Linked DNA regions of Homo sapiens: region 2 is linked to region 1. The links come from fine-mapping of genetic effects on gene expression. Tissue or cell type: testis. Region 1 holds a variant in brackets; the other region holds the start of a gene. All regions are shown on one strand. Distances are between the middles of the regions.

The links. PIP is the estimated chance that this variant, and not a neighbour inherited with it, causes the effect.
Region 2: it holds the start of PRICKLE1, and the variant in region 1 is fine-mapped to the expression of PRICKLE1 in testis (GTEx, PIP 0.91).

Annotation. Positions count from the first base shown.
Region 1 is chr12:42,475,293-42,483,262 of GRCh38, reverse strand. The region is part of intron 1 of PRICKLE1 (prickle planar cell polarity protein 1); the gene reads left to right. Among named protein-coding and RNA genes, the nearest start is that of PRICKLE1, 110 kb to the left of the region's middle. RefSeq lists enhancers at 41-160, 1,375-1,986, 3,996-4,085, 7,853-7,922 and silencers at 281-350, 2,300-2,500. The variant G/A (reference allele first, on the strand shown) is at 3,925.
Region 2 is chr12:42,586,670-42,594,639 of GRCh38, reverse strand. It overlaps PRICKLE1 (prickle planar cell polarity protein 1), which reads left to right and starts at 4,894. Exons shown (of 8, transcript NM_153026.3): 1 at 4,894-5,175. RefSeq lists an enhancer at 3,614-4,171 and a silencer at 4,641-4,890.

The sequences.
Region 1 (7,970 bases):
CAGACGTGGGGACCCGTGGCTGCTCGGCCCCACCGTCCAGCCGCAGGGCGAGTGCTGCTCCGTGGAGGTGACACGGCGCCAAGAGCGGCGCGAGGCTTTCTGCTGGAGGAGGGTAACGGGGAATTCGAAGGCGACTGTTCTATGCTGGAGGACAAGGGGCACTGTTCTCTCGGGGCTTCGCGTCGGCGCCGAGGAGGGGTTCGCTCGCTGCCTCTGCGTCCTGAGCTCGGCCTCTGGCTCCTGGGGCCGGGGACGCAGAGAGGGGCTGGAGCCGGTCGACCCACGGCCCAGGGCGCCCCCTCGCGGCCTAAGCAGCGGCCGCCGCCTGGAGCGCAGAGTTTGCGGGGCCCAGGGGGCGCCGACGCCCGCTCTGAGGCGTCTCTGCTGCTGCGGCGGCGGGGATGGGGACGACCCAGGGGACCCCCTGCAGCCATCACTGGCAGCCCCATCAAGAATTGGCCGGCTGAGTTTTCCCAAAGTACGGTGACATCCTTTCCTTCTCGCTTCCTCCAGCCCCATTTTTAAAAGCTCGGCCTTTCCCGTTAGTCTGTGTCCTTATAAGCCAGGCTATGTGTGGAATTTGTTTTTACAACTCGAGTCTTGTGACTTCTCAAACACTTTCTTGAAGTGTTTTCTCTGGAAACTTGTTTCAAATGGGTGCTGTAAGTTTCACAAAGAGGAGTGTTGTTCAGGAGCCAACAGGTGACGGGGCGAAACCTGAGTCTGTGTGTACATTGGAGTCAAGTCTGGCTGCCGTTTCCTCGGGCCACTGTTGAAAATAGAAATCCAAAAAATCAATAGAAGACTGAGGAGAACACGATTTTGAGAAAATATCTGCATCCCCCATTATGGAAAATAATGGGCTCATTAGAGCACCGCCTTGTGTGGTGCCCCTCATTCCATGGCATGCATTTTGGATTTTGTCTTTACATACTCGTGTGCGGATAATCTGACCCTAGAAGCGCCGCGCTGGCGGAGGACCAGGCTTTGTCGTCATGTTTCCTCCTTTTGTTTCTTACTGTCATGGAATGTACTTGTGCATGAAATTAGAATGCTTTGAAAGAGTTCCACATTTCCTCTTGGAAAAATGGATAGTTTCTTGACCATTGGGTGATGTGTGATAGCCCACTCAGCTGTTGGGAAATGTACAAGCTGGATGGAGGTTTACCTCGAAAATGCTGGACGGAGGTTTACCTGGAAAATACAGAAAATACTAAAGGGCATATGGCCTAATGCCACTAATTGCTCGTATGGAAAACTTAGTAAAGGAATGTTTCATAAACAATATCTCCTGATAACTTCATTATGTTTTTATTTTTCAAATAAGTGAAATTGAATTGGGCTTTGTTGGCAGTGACTTTGTCTTTAGTAGACAGTAAGCACTGAATGCCCCTTGAGTGTGTGAAACCTTTAAAGAAATGACAGTTTAGTGTCTCTTTTACTGGAAAATTCACATCTCGATTGAAGTTAAGGACATCCTAAACAAGGAAATGTGTATATCCATAAGGGTGGTATATTTTGTATTGTGAAAAGAATGGATGTGTGACATGTTTCTGTACTGCTAAATTAGTCTGTAGTTAAATTTAATTCACCTGCATATGTAGTCTGGGAGAATTGGAGTAGCTTTTGAATGGAGAACCTGTGATCTGCATCTTCCATGCACTAAGGCCTTGTTAACAAGCAGTTTAACAAAGAAGCTGTTAAGCAGTTTGTAGCCCACGGATGGCACTTAGCAGCAGGGGACACCTAGGGAATGTTGGCCTAACTGACTTCACAAATCAGTATCTGTTCTGGCTTTTGGTGATCAGAGGATTTCTAACTTCCCTGGGCATGTTCACACAAGAAATACTTTTTCATAGGGATCTTACAATGCCATGGTAGTCTTCATATAGGAACTAGAGTGGGATTGCATTGGAGAAAAAAATGTAATTAGGGATATGACCTTATACTTCATTTTCAATGGCAGGCCCTGACAATTACTGTTTTCTATTTGCATGATTTTGATTTGGTGACTTGGTTCAAGAAAATTATGAATAATAGGAATCATACCAGACCTGATATACAGTTACAACCTCAATATGTATCTGATTAAACTCATTCTCCTGAAATCCCTCAAATCCTCACTCCCCTTCTGAGTTGCCCTAAGGTACTTATGTATTGGTATGTCAATCACCTAATACTCAAAACTGTCTTTGGCCCAATTTCTTCCTTTCCTATTAGTTCCTTTTACTTTCCCTCCCCAAGTCACTATGTGTAAGCTTTCTTAGGGACAGTGTACTAATTGGCCCCTCTCAGGTTCTTTATCTTTTTCCTGACCATCACTACCATATTAATCTTCTTTAAGACCCAGAAGTATCTTGTGGCAGTCTCCATTCATGTCTTTTGCAGCTTCCCATTGCCTGTAGTGATAAGCCCACAGTTTTCTGCCTGAAATGTGTAATTCTTGAAAATAGGATTCAGACACCATTGCCATCTGTTGTTGCTTCTTTGGAAGAATCTGTCTTCTAGCAAAACCGTCCACTCTTCACTGCCTCTGGACCTTCATATACTGTGCTGACTTATTAAGCTCTTTACAGAAACATAGTTATGGCTCATTTATGTATATGTCAAGGTCAATCAAGATAATAATCCTTAGCTATCCTGGAAGCAGCATACAGACCAGTAGAAAATGAAATGATCCCCAAGTGGCCAAAATAGCATAACGAAATAATAAACCTTCTCTTTAGTTTGAATAACACCTTCTCACACTGTATGCTATCTTATTTCACCAGTGGTTACTGTGCTTATAGGAGAAGTCCTTAAGCCCTTGTCCATGCCATAATTACTACATAGATTTTTTTTTGGGACAGGGTCTTGCTGTATTGCCCAGGCTGGTCTCAAACTCCTGGGCTCAAGCAATCCTCCCACTTCAGCCACCAGGTAGCTGAGAGTATAGGCATATGCCCAGCTTCTGTGTACTTTTAGACAAACTTTTTCAAAGAATGGTTGCCTAATACCGGAAGCAACAAATTTTGAAAGGTTTGGAGGTTGTTGGCTGTGGGCAAAAGAGAAAGGCACCTTAATAAGAGACAGGTAGCAGGGATCAAAACATTATGAGAGCAGGGAGAAAAAAACCTACAAAAAGTTTGCTAGTTATCATAAATGTATGGGTCAGGGGCCATTCTGTTTCTTGAATCCCGAAGCCAGTGTTTTCTACTGTGCTCAAAATGAAAACAAATGATCAGCCGAAGGCTAAATCACATATAATTTTTACACGTGCCACCACGAAAGAAAGCAAGGAGATGAATAATGGAATTTTTTTTTTTTTTAAGATGGAGTTTCGCTCTTGTTGCCCAGGCTGGAGTGCAATGGCATGATCTTGGTTCACTGCAGCCTCTGCCTCCCAGGTTCAAGCAATTCTCCTGCCTCAGCCTCCCAAGTACTGGGATTACAGACATGCGCCACCATGCCCGGCTAATTTTGTATTTTTAGTAGAGATGGGGTTTCACCATGTTGATCAGGCTGGTCTCGAACTCCTGACCTCAAGTAATCCACCCACCTTAGCCTCTATAGTGCTGGGATTACAGGCATGAGCCACTGCACCCGGTGGCTACATTTCTTTCTAAGTTCTGGCTTTTAATGGAATAAATGTCAGTTGGCTCCTTTTGGCATTCCCCAGAACCGTTCAATAACAACTTTAAATATAAGGATGAATGAATGAATGCAGTGAATGAACCTAGAAAGTAAATTTCACAAAGGAACCCCTCATTATATCACTGTGTTATATGAATAAGGCCATACTTGAATTTGGGGAACAAGCTTTACCTAGAAAAACTGTCATGCTCCATAGACCACTACACATGCTGTGTGCGAATGTGTGCACGCACACACGCTATGTGTATGGTATTGGAGGCTTTATGTGGGGACTGGTTAGAAGCTGCTACC[G/A]AAGCAGCTGGAAACGTTGGTCAATAACTTGGCAAAATTGTCTGCCGTTCAGAAGGCTAGAGCTCTCGCAAGCTCAAAAAGAAGATGAAACTCAGGTTTTGTTATTAACATATTGTTTCAATTCCATTTGTCACTGGTTAGCTTCAAGAAAGTCTGTTTAGTCCCAGTGGAAGCAGCAATGCCAATTGGTACGTTGCAATAGGAGCTTTAATTCTTTATGGTCGTGAAATTCTTTTCTGTTTTAAAACATCCTTAGACCATCTTTGGAAGGCAAATAGTGGCTATTTTTTAAAATCAGGTCTCAAGATGTTTGTTGACTTGTCAAAGCTTTGAAGACATCAGGACCAAGTTTACTGAATGCTGAGAGCATCAGATTCCATTCCCTAAGTATAGCCCTTATCCTTTGGGTCAGATGTTCTCTTGACAATGATGATTGAGAAGTCTTACATCTGTTAGCTGCTTGTCTTTGTTTTTAATGATGAGAAATAGCTATTTAACTATTTTGAAGGAAGAGGCGAGAGAAAGGACAAAGGAGGGAAATGGAACTGTTCCATTTTCTATTGCATGGAATAGCCCCATGATATTCCTTGCCTTTCTAAAAAAAAAAAAAAAGAGTATCCCAGCTCTCTCTACATGACCTTGGGCTTCTTTCTCACCTCCCTTGTGACCATACCCTTCTTTTCTGTTTGACATTTATTTCTCTACTTGACTCTGATAGTAGGCTTTTAGTTTTCAAAATAGTGTCTGCAAAGAACTCATGAACCTGCTAGAGAATTAAGTTCTAACAGCAGTTCCTTGTGCTTGACCACCCCCTCCCAATGCCATCTTTGATGGTGGTGGTAGCTGTTAAAAGGTTTTGTGCCCTCCACACACCTCCTTAATGGTCAGACTATTTGGAACCTGAACAAACCCATCTCTGAAAACTGTTTTGCTTTTCTTTCTCCTTCATTATGAGGTTTATTTACATTCAAAATTATAGAGAGACACTGGAGAAATAGGATGCCTATTGATTTATTTCCAAACTTAGCACAGGATTGGTTAATGCATAGTTGACATTCATTTATGATTAAGTTTGCTACAGCATTTTAAGACCAAGACAATAAATCTGCCTTAGAATAGTCAAGAATACTGATGTTTTGAGCTGTGGTTAGGTAAAAGAATGTAAAAAAATACACTCTCAAATGGATCCCACAGAAGTGTGTATACATATGAGAGAGAAAGAGGGAGAGGGAGGGAGGATGATGATGCAAAAGCAAATGGAGCAAAATGTAAACCATTGATGAGTCTGGGTAAGGGATGCATCAGAGTTCTTTTACTATTGCAACTTTTTGGAAGTTTAAAGTAACGTCCAAATAAAATTGTACCAAAAAAAAAAAAAAAAAAGTATAGGGCAGGGCCACTGTTAGTTCATCTAAGCATGGTTCTACAAAAGAAAAAAGAAGCATCATAAAAAAAGTTTTACTCTGTCATAACCCCAACTTTGAATAGTTCTATTTCCATTATAATGCAGCCTACTTTTAAACCTGATTCTGCCCGTTTCATGTGATCAACCTTAAGAGACAATACCTGAAAATAAAGTTATTAGAATTTTTCTATTAGGTCTGATTTACCTGTGGTCTCATATGCTTGGCTTAAAGCATGATGTTTTGGCAGACCACATTCAACCATGGTTAGGTATCCTCAGGAAGACCTTCAGCCATGACCCAGAGCAGAAGGAATGGCCAGGCTCCCTTCTTCCTTCTGTGCTACAAAAGTAAATACCATATAGTGTTTTAAATGCCTAAGGAAGGGTTATTTGTGAGGTCATATATATATATATATATATATATATATATATATATATATATATATATATACACACACACACACACACATATATACGTATATACATATATACACATATATACATATGTATATACATATATATAATATGTGTATATATATATATTTTGTTTTGTTTTGTTTTGAGACAGAGTTTTGCTCTTGTTGCCCAGGCTAGAGTGCAATGGTGTGATCTCGGCTCACCGCAACCTCTGCCTCCTGGCTTCAAGTGATTCTCCTGCCTCAGCCTCTCGAGTAGCTGGGATTACAGGTGTGCACCACCACACCTGGATAATTTTGTATTTTTAGTAGAGACGGGGTTTCTCCATGTTGGTCAGGTTGGTCTCAAACTCCCAACCTCAGGTGATCCACCCGCCTTGGCCTCCCAAAGTGCTGGGATTACATGCGTGAGCTACTGCGCCTGGCCACGTCTTTATAATTTTTAGTGTAACTTTTTACAAGCGTAAGAACTGTGTTTAGCTGCCACTGCTTTACCCGACTGATATACTTAAGAATAGACTCTCAGGATCTCTTGGCAAGTACAAGCAATCTTTAAAAATAAGAAAGAAGTCAGGTGCCATGGCTCACGCCTGTAATCCCAGCACTTTGGGAGGCCGAGGCAGGAGGATATTTTGAGTCCAGGAGTTTGAGACCAGCCTGGGCAACATAGGGAGACCCCATCTCTACAAAAAACAAAAACAAAAAACTTTGGTGTGGTGGCACATGCCCGTGGTCCCACCTACTTGGGAAGCTGAGGTAGGAGGATTGTTTGGACCTGGGAGGTAGACAGGCTGCAATAAGCCATGATTGTGCCACTGCACTCCAGCCTGGGTGACAGATAAATAGGAAAAAGAAAAATCTAAATTGAAGTTTTCGTGTTATCAGGTAAATAAGTTGCTAGAAGCCAGGTGCCGTGGCTCACGCCTGTAATCCCAGCACTTTGGGAGGCCAAAGCGGGCAGATCCCCTGAGGTCAGGAGTTTGAGACCAGTCTGACCAACATGGAGAAACCCCGTCTCTACTAAAAATACAAAATTAGCCAGGTGCAGTGGCTCACGCCTGTAATCCCAGCACTTTGAGAGGCCGAAGTGGGCAGATCACCTAAGGTCAGGAGTTCAAGACCAGCCTGACCAACATGGAGAAACCCCGTCTCTACTAAAAATATGAAATTAGCTGGGTGTGGTGGCACATGCCTGTAATCCCAGCTACTTGGGAGACTGAGGCAGGAGAATCTCTTGAACCTGGGAGGCAGAGGTTGCGGTGAGCCAAGATGGCGCCATTGCATTCCAGCCTGGGTAACAAGAGCAAAACTCAAAAAAAAAAAAGAAAAAAGAAAAAAGAAGTTGCTAGTGATGATGTAGCAACTCTTAGCACAGCCTGGTCCCAGTGGAGGCCATGCCATATAACTTTTTTTTTTTTTTTTTTTGAGACGGAGTTTTGCTCTTGTCACCCAGGCTGGAGTGCAATGGTGCGATCTTGGCTCACTGCAACTTCCGGTTCAAGCAATTCTCCTCCCTCAGCCTCCTGAGTAGCTGATATTACAGGGACATACCACCACGCCCAGCTGACTTTTATATTTTTAGTAGATTTGGGGTTTCACTAGGTTGGCCATGCTGGTCTTGAACTCCTGACCTCAGGTGGTCTGCCCCCGCCCCCCCCCAGCCTCCCAAATGCTGGGATTACAGGTGTGAGCGACTGCACCCAGCCAACATTTTTTTAATGTTTGTGTTTTGATGAGCTCTGAGAACTTGCGAGTGAATGGTTTTGTCATTTTAAGTATTCTCTGATATAAAGGAAAAAGAAAAACTTTCGTCAGTGAATAAACTCTGAACCAAGTGCTCATGAGGCCATTGAATTTTTACAATCCTTTTTGACTGTATATCCTTAAAATGCCTTCCGTGGGTAAAGTGGACTACCTTCCAGTTGTGTCATTTTGTGTGTCTGCAGCGCAGGTAGCTTGGCTGATTCACCAAAGAAAAAGGAATTGGCTCCATCAGCACTCCCCCCCTGGAGGCAGTGTGGGGTTGCAGGGGTTTAGGATCACAGCCAAGACCGGTCCTAAGACCACTTACTGACCTTGGGCAATTGACCCTGAGGGACATTGCTCTGAGGCCCAGTTTCCCCATCTGTTAAATGAGACACCACTTACCGTGGGTTGCTTGATGCAGTGATTAAATGCCGTAACACTAATGGTACCAGCCAGGCATGGAGAAGTAAGTTAGCCAT
Region 2 (7,970 bases), 110 kb before region 1:
TCCCAGCAAGGCAGTGGCTGGTATATAAGTGATCAATAAATACTTGTTGAAGTTGTTGTTATGGCATCACTAAAAGCTCATGCACAAATCCCAATACTTGACCTGGGTCACATGCCCATCCCTGAACTAATCTTTTGGTCAGGGGATCCAGTGCTCTAATTTTCCAGGTCTGGGTCACCTGATCCTAACACCAAAACCAGGGATGAGTCTCCAACTAATCCATGTGCACTGACAGTGGGAGATGATGGTTCCTCAAGGGAAATTGGGGGCATTACAAAGAAGGAGAAACAAGCTTGGCAGACAAAACAATAAATAATGCACATCAATGGACTACCAAGAAGGTGATGTTTGAGTCGAATGGTAAAGGATAAGCAGGAGTTAGCTAATAAAGAGGGCAATTTTCAGTGGGTAACATTCTAGGTATTTTCAAAGCACAGAGTCATAAAACAGCCTGATGCTTTTGAAGAACTGTAAATAGCTTAATATGGTTAGAGCAAACAAGGGTGGAGAGTAGTAAAAAAAAAATAAGCCAGAGAGATAGGCATAGTGCAAATATAAAAGACCTTTAGAACTAATCCAAGGAGTGTGCACTCTATCCTGAAAGCCCTGAAGAGCATAAGTAGGATTTGCAGCCCGGGAGCACGCCTGACAGCCAGGCCCTTGCAGATCATTATAGGGTCAACACTGATTCACCCTGCAAACACTGGTTGGGGCTGGGTCTGCAAGTCAAAGAAAGGAGTCCCAGATGTGGATGAACAAGAGACACAGGGAGCAGACGCCAAGCAAATCCTAGGAATCAAACAGACCTGGGAATCAAACAAAGACTGCCAACACTGTCTGATTGTTGCTTAATTCTCAAGCTTGTGGCCCACACTGTCACGAATTCTTCATCTAAATATGAAAATCCTCTTTAGTGAGCCACGACACATTCAGAGCATGACATGGTTGGGTATTGTACTAGTTTGCTGGGGCTACCATAATAAAGTACCACAAACTGGGTGGCTGAAACAACTGAAATTTATTGTCTTACAGTTGTGCAGGTGGAAAGTCTGAGATCAAGGTGTGGGCAGGGTTGGTTCCTTCTGAGAGCTGTGAGGAAGAATCTGTTCCGTGCCTCTCTCCTGGCTTCTGGTAATTTGCTGGCAATCAATGATGTTCCTTGGCTTGCAGAAGCATCACCCTGATCTCCGCCTTCACCTCTATGTGGTATTCTCCCTGTGTGCATGTCTGTCTCCAAATTCTGCTCCCCACCTCTTTTTGAGACACGGTCTCGCTGTATTGCCCAGGCTAGAGTGCAGGGACACCATAATGGCTCACCACAGCCTCGATGTCCTGGGCTCAAGTGATTGTCCTGCCTCAGCCTTCCAGTAGCTGGGAACATAGGTGCATGCCCATGCCACCACACCTGGCGATTTCTTTCTTTTTTTTCCTTTTTTTTTTTTTTGGAGAGACAAGATCTCCCTGTGTTGCCTGTTGCCCAGGCTCATCTCAAACTCCTGGGCTTAAGTGACTCTCCCACCTCAGCCTCCCAAAGTGCTGGGAGTATAGGCATGAGTCACTATGCCTGCCCAAGTTTCCCCTTTTTATAAGGATAAAAATCATATTGGATTAGGACTGAACTTAGTGACCTCATGTTAACTTGATTAACTCTGCAAAGACCTTATCTCCAAATAAGGTTGCATTCTGAGGTACTGCAGTTAAGGACTTCAACATGAAGTTTTGGAGGACACAATTCAACACACAAAAATGTTATTTTTAAAAAGAAGTTGCAGCCAGGCTCAGTGGCTCATGCCTGTAATCCTAGCACTTTGGGAGGCCAAGGCAGGTGGATCACTTGAGGTCAGGAGTTCAAGACCAGCCTGGCCAACATGGCGAAACCCCGTCTGTACTAAAAATACAAAAATTAGCTGGGTGTGATGGCATGCACCTGTAGTCCCAGCTACTCGGGCAGCTGAGGCAGGAGAATTGCATGAACCCTGGGGTCAGAGTTTGCAGTGAGCCAAGATCGTGCCATTTCACGCCAGCCTGGGCGAAGAGCAAGACTCCATCTCAAATAAATAAATAAAATAAAAAGAAGTTACTTAGCCACGTACGGTAGTGCATGCCTGTAGTCTCAGCTACTCGGGAGGCTGTGGCGGGAGGATCACTTGAGCCCAGGAGTTTGAGGCTGAAGTGAGCTGTGATCACCACTGCACTCCAGACTGGGTGACAGATCAAGGGTGTCTCAAAAAAGAAAAGTAGACATTCTCTAAGTGAATTGATTTCTTACAAAAGGTATGACATCATGTTGCTTTGTAAAGACAAAGAAAATAACACCATTAATAAAACAGACTCAGAAAAAAGAAAAAGAGACCCAGGAGCAATTCAAGAGTTCACAATGAAGAATGCTTTTTCAGATTAAATAAAAAACAGTTCTTTTCTACTTGTGGGATTTTGCATGGAGGCTGCTATAGAGAAGGGTGCTTGTGAGAAGATGCCTTATAAAATGAAATACAAACGTTCCAGTGATTTCTGCAGCATTCAATCTTCCCAACAGTTCCCTGAGCTGAATATTATTACCCTCACTTACCAATGAGAAACTAAGCCTGAGAGAGGTTAACTACATTACCCCAGGCTACATTTGGTAAGCGGTGGGGCTGAAATTTGAAATCAGACTGTTGTGACCTCAGACCATCACATGCACTGGCCGGAGTAATTTTATGAGTCCTGGTTGAAGGCCAAGTATTCACCTTTGCAATGGATCCAAAAGATGCTGCCCAGCACACAGTCCAAAGAGGCAGTAATCCTCCAGAGGGAATGACCATGTATCATCCACAGTGCTCAGGGTGTCTGCTCCACATAATAGATGCTCAACAAACAAAACCTTTGTGAAGTCACTGTACAGCAATAAGATTTATTTCACCTATGGAGGTAGTGAAATTTTCTTTGGCAGTTCTGGAGGTTAGATAGAACCTAAAAGTTGATAGCTTAATAGAAGCATTTGTAACCCCAGCAAGATAAACAGACACAACTTCAAAGGCCAATTCCAATAAAATGCTGAGGGGCAAGAAAACCTGGTTTGTTCTTTCCCAGATTCTCGTCACCTGAGGTCAGGAGTTCGAGACCAGCCTGGCCAACATGGGGAAACTGTCTCTACTAAAAATACAAAAATTACCTGGGCGCGGTGGCAGGTGCCTGTAATCCCAGCTACTCGGGAGGTTGAGGAAGGAGAATCGCTTCAACACGGGGGCGGGGCGGAGGTTGCAGTGAGCGGAGATCGCGCCACTGCACTCCAGCCTGTGTGACAAGAGCGAAACTCCGTCTCAAAAAAAAAAAAAAAAAAAAAAAAAAAAAAAAACAACGCTAGCAAGTGGAATTATTTCAAAAGCAACAGCCTTGTTTCCTGAGTGATCTGAGCTCAGGAACTCTGCCTGGGCATCTAGACAGGAGAAAGTATCTACAGCGTGGGGAGATCTGAGTCAGAATTATAGAGCACAGTGCTGAAGCCATACATTTTCCTGGATTTAGACAGTTTCCTCCTCCATTTGCCTTTATTTCCTTGCATTCTCTTTTCATCGGCTCCATTTTTGCTGAGTATTCCTTTGCTTTATTCCCAACGAAAATCGAAAAGACTTGATGTTCTGAGAAATTCTGAGACTGGCAGTTTTGATTTTTCTTAAAAGGATAAAAATTGCATCAGTCAACACCTCCCTCCACACTCCCCCCACACACATCCTCATCTTCCTGGAAGATGATACAGTATCCTAGAGCGTTGTGGAGAGGATGGAGAGGTCAAGGAAGCCCTGGCTTTGCAGAGGCACCTGTCAAGTTCGGGTTAACAGCTGCCGCCTGTGTCTGCCCTCTGCAGTCCAGGGAAATAGTACCCACACGGTGAGACTCCACCGATCCGGAACTGGAGAGGGTGGGGGGTTCTAAGGTTTAGTGTGACACAAATGTCAGGGCAGAACTTTCAAACAGGCTGAGCCCCAGTTCAACGTGGGTGAGTGCGCCTGAGAGCCCAGCTCTGGGAATTGAGCAGACTGAAAATGTGGAGAGTAGTTTGGCCAGTGAAAAATTGTCACCGTGTTCGGATCAATGCTTTGAACCCGCTTTTAAGTGCGCCACGTTCACTTGGGTCAGGCTCTGGACATTGCGGTGGGCTGAGGTTTTCGCGGGCACGATCCCCCACACTGAGTTTTCATGGAGACGACCAGGGCCGTCGAGGCGGGGAAGGGAACGGACTAGAGGCTGAACTTTGGCTTCTTGCTCTGAAAGATCACTCCTCCGGTTCCGGGGCAGAGACTCAGACCAGCCTGTGGGATTACACGAGACAGGATCGAGTCCAAACGGGTCCCCAGCTCGGCAAGGCGCGCCGGAAGGAATCTAAGTGTTTAATTAACTGCCCCCTTCACACACCCCCCGAAGGAGAAGGAACTCAAATAGGCACCCCTACCCAAATCGTTTGATCAGAGGAAATTGGGTTTGTCTCTCCCCCACCCCCCACCCCGTCCCTTCACTCTTCCTGTGTTTCAGTCCATCGGGATTGTTGGTTAAAAAAAAAAAAAAAAAAAGGCTTATAATCGGGGGCGGGGCAGAGGCTCCGAGCGAGCCGCACTTGCGACTCTGGACCGCGGTTGGTGAACTTTTTTCTCCCTGCGCATAATCCGCCTGCTGCTCTGCCCCACTGGCTGCGCGTGGAGCCGGTCCCAGGCCTGCTCGCAGCCCTGCCCCCGGGCGCGGCCCGAGCCGGGCCCGACCTCGCTTTCAGGGCCGAGCCGGGGTACGCGTGGGCGCGCGCCCAGCGGCCTCGATCCCGCGGCGGCGTCCGCGCTCCGCGTTTTCGCTCGCGCCGGGCCCCGCGGCCGAGGGCGGGGTGCGCGGCGGCGCCGCAGCGCGCGGCTCCGGAGCCCGAGCGCACTCCGCCTGCAGCCCAGCTGCCAGCGCCGTCTCCCGCGGCCGCCGCCGCCCGACAGCGCGCCCGGAACATGCCAGCCTCGCGCAGCCTGCGCTGACTTCCCCGAGACGCGCCGCGGTCGGCACGGAGACTTTCTGGGCTCTGGATGGTTCGTGCGCTGCTCACCCTCGCCCACCCCTGACGCCGCGGACCGCAGCTCCTCAGCCCCGCAGCCCCGCAGCCCAGCAGCCCCGCAGCGGCGCCGAGGACAGTGCAGCCGAGTTGCGTCTCCCTCGCGCGAGGTGAGTGGCAGCCTGGATCCCGGCGGATTCCGCAGAGGGGGCTGCGGCGCGGTGGTGGGGGGCGAGCGCCGCAGGGGTAGGGCCGGGCACCTTCGCTGGCACCGCCGGAGTCTGTGACACCCAGACTGGGTCGGTGTCGCAGAAGATCAGGGAGAAGGTCATAATCGGTTTGTTGGGCTGTGTAGACAGGGAAAGCAGATATTGGCTGCAGCATCGCCAGGGCTCCGCAGAGGCTCTCCGCATGGCTCCTGTTTGCTGCATCACAACCAACTCTTCCCTTGGTTTTCTCCGGCGTGGAAACAGGTTCTGTAGCCCGAGGGTCGAGGCGATGCGGGGCGCCGGGAGGCGAGGGTGCGTTGGCGTGTTCCCGCCGCTTAGGATCGCCTGTCACCTACTGGCGTCCGGAGGGAGGGTACCGATTCTCTCCTCTAGCGCTGGGGAAAGGGGCTGGTGGCTTTTTGGCAGAGGCGAATCAACTCCCACCACTCTCCCCAACCCCCTGCCCCGCGATGGTGTTTGCTGAATGTAGCACAGATATAGGGAAAAAATGGGAGCGTCTTCCTCTCTTGAGGTAGAAAAAGTTGAAGAAACTAGGCATGTTAATAGTTATTAGGAGCGGGACTCAGGATGCAGCAGAAAGCTGTTAAATTTTCATTACCCTCTAAGAAAAACAAACGGCATCGCCAGTGACTATTGGCAGTGCTGTGTTATTCTTGGGACTTTGGGAAAATTGTTCACAGATTGTCTTCAGGAGGCTGAAGAACGAGGTTGGGGGTTGGGAGAGAGGGAGGACGGCTGCATCACGCTTAGTTCCAGCTTGCCTAAGGAGGGTTCAGGATCACAAGCCGAACGCGTTTGGTTGCTGATTTTTAAAAGGGTATCAGCGGCAGAACTGAGACCATGAACAAGGCAAACACACCACGGGAACCAGCCTAAAGGAAAAAAAAAAAGCACCAACAACTACAACCAAAAAAACATGTAAAAATCTGCCTCTCCTGCAGAGTTAACATGCATTTGTGCTATCAAATGGATGCATGTATATGTGTCTTTTAGGATAAGTTTTATGAATGACAAATCACTGAAATGGTATCTTGTATCTGTTCATGCATACAGTGTTGTCTACTGCCTCGTCTTAATCAGTACTTTGGAAGGCTGTGCCTGCAGTTGATGTTATATAATTGATGTGGTTCACCATCAGACATTTTTTAATGTACTTTAGGAGTAGAGGGAACTTCCATCTGTCTTTTCAGACAGGCCCAAGGTGTAGACTGGTGAGGGTTGCTAATGTTTGCCGTAGTCCGGCTCCAGATGTGTGAGCTCAGCTGTTGCCTGTCACTTAGGTGACAACTGGCCCTTTCCCACTAAGCCTTTGCTGTCTCCATTATCCTCAGTGAAGTGTCAGTGTTCAGCCGCCTTCTATTATCAGGAGTGGACTCTAGCCCCTTGGGAGCCGGCAGCCTTGTTTGACCGTCCCCAACATTATGTCTGTTTTCAGACTCTAGAAAGGAAAAAAAAAACAAAAAAAAATCCCATGACAGCAAGATAGATACATTTTGAATTGAGCATCAACTTAATCCAAAGATTCTGCTTTAATCAAGACAGTTCTGTAAGGATGACGCAGTATTTGTCAAGGCTTTTCTCTGGAACAATATTTACTCCCACCAGGGGATTTTAAACTTAAACAGCAGCCATTCATCTTGCTGTCTGGTGGAGCCTGGTTCAGTTTGCCTCCAATGTGGTCCTAGCCTTGGTGGCTAGGCTTGGCCTGGGACAGGAATCTGTCATTGTAGCCCAGCTGGAGCCTGAAGAAAGCAAAATACAGCACCTGCTGGTACCAGAGGGTTTCTAAATGCCATCAACTGGCGAGTCAGGAAACACAGAAGGAGATATTTTACCAGCTCTTCCAGAAATGTTTATACAAAGGATTTAGAGGTTAACAATGCATGTGCTCTACATATTAAAACCGAAAGGTGCTACAAATAAATGGATGTTACCCACAGTTAAGGGTTTGCACACTTGCTGATGAACTTGAAAATCTCCAAGTTTAATAAGTCATGGCTAATGTAGTATGATTCATTCTTATAAATAAGCCTCAAAAGGAAGGAAGGAAGGAAAAGAGGGAGGGATGGAGAGAGGGAGGGAAAAAGGAAGGAAAAACTGGATAGTTTATAGAGATAGACATATTGATGCAACTGAATGGGCTTAGTAAATTAATTTTTCCATCTTTAATTTGGTACTAATTGGCGAGTTATCACCGAGTGAGCCTGTTGGTTCATAGGTTTTAAAAAGAAAAATGATATATTTTACTAAAGTGACAGATTCAATCAGTTCTGCCAGTAACACCAGTGAAGCTTAAAAAGCTTATTATGTTTTTATAATCAAGGTCCATGGAAGCACTATTTGTCCATGGTGTGTGGTGGTGTAATAAGTCAGCTTGAGTCCCCCAGATAAAATCTAATATTAGCTAGGGAGAAATAAAGATCTCCTATAGGGTTAATAGCTGAACTCTTAACTTTAGAGTCAGATGTAGGTAAGTCTAGTTGTTCCTAATATTCTCTCTTTTGATAATTCTGAAAAGACCAAAAAAGTTAAATTTTGCAGTTTCTTTGATTAAGGCTTTTAAAAAGTAAGCTGAATTATAAGTTTTAAAAGTTGCATCATAATTTCTCTAAAATCTCTTATAATTACTTGAAAGCAAAATACAAAGAATTAAGTATTATGAGTGATTGTCTATAATACTCATGAAATGGAACAAGAATCTTTACAAAGTATTTTCCAGTAATTAAGTAACTCTC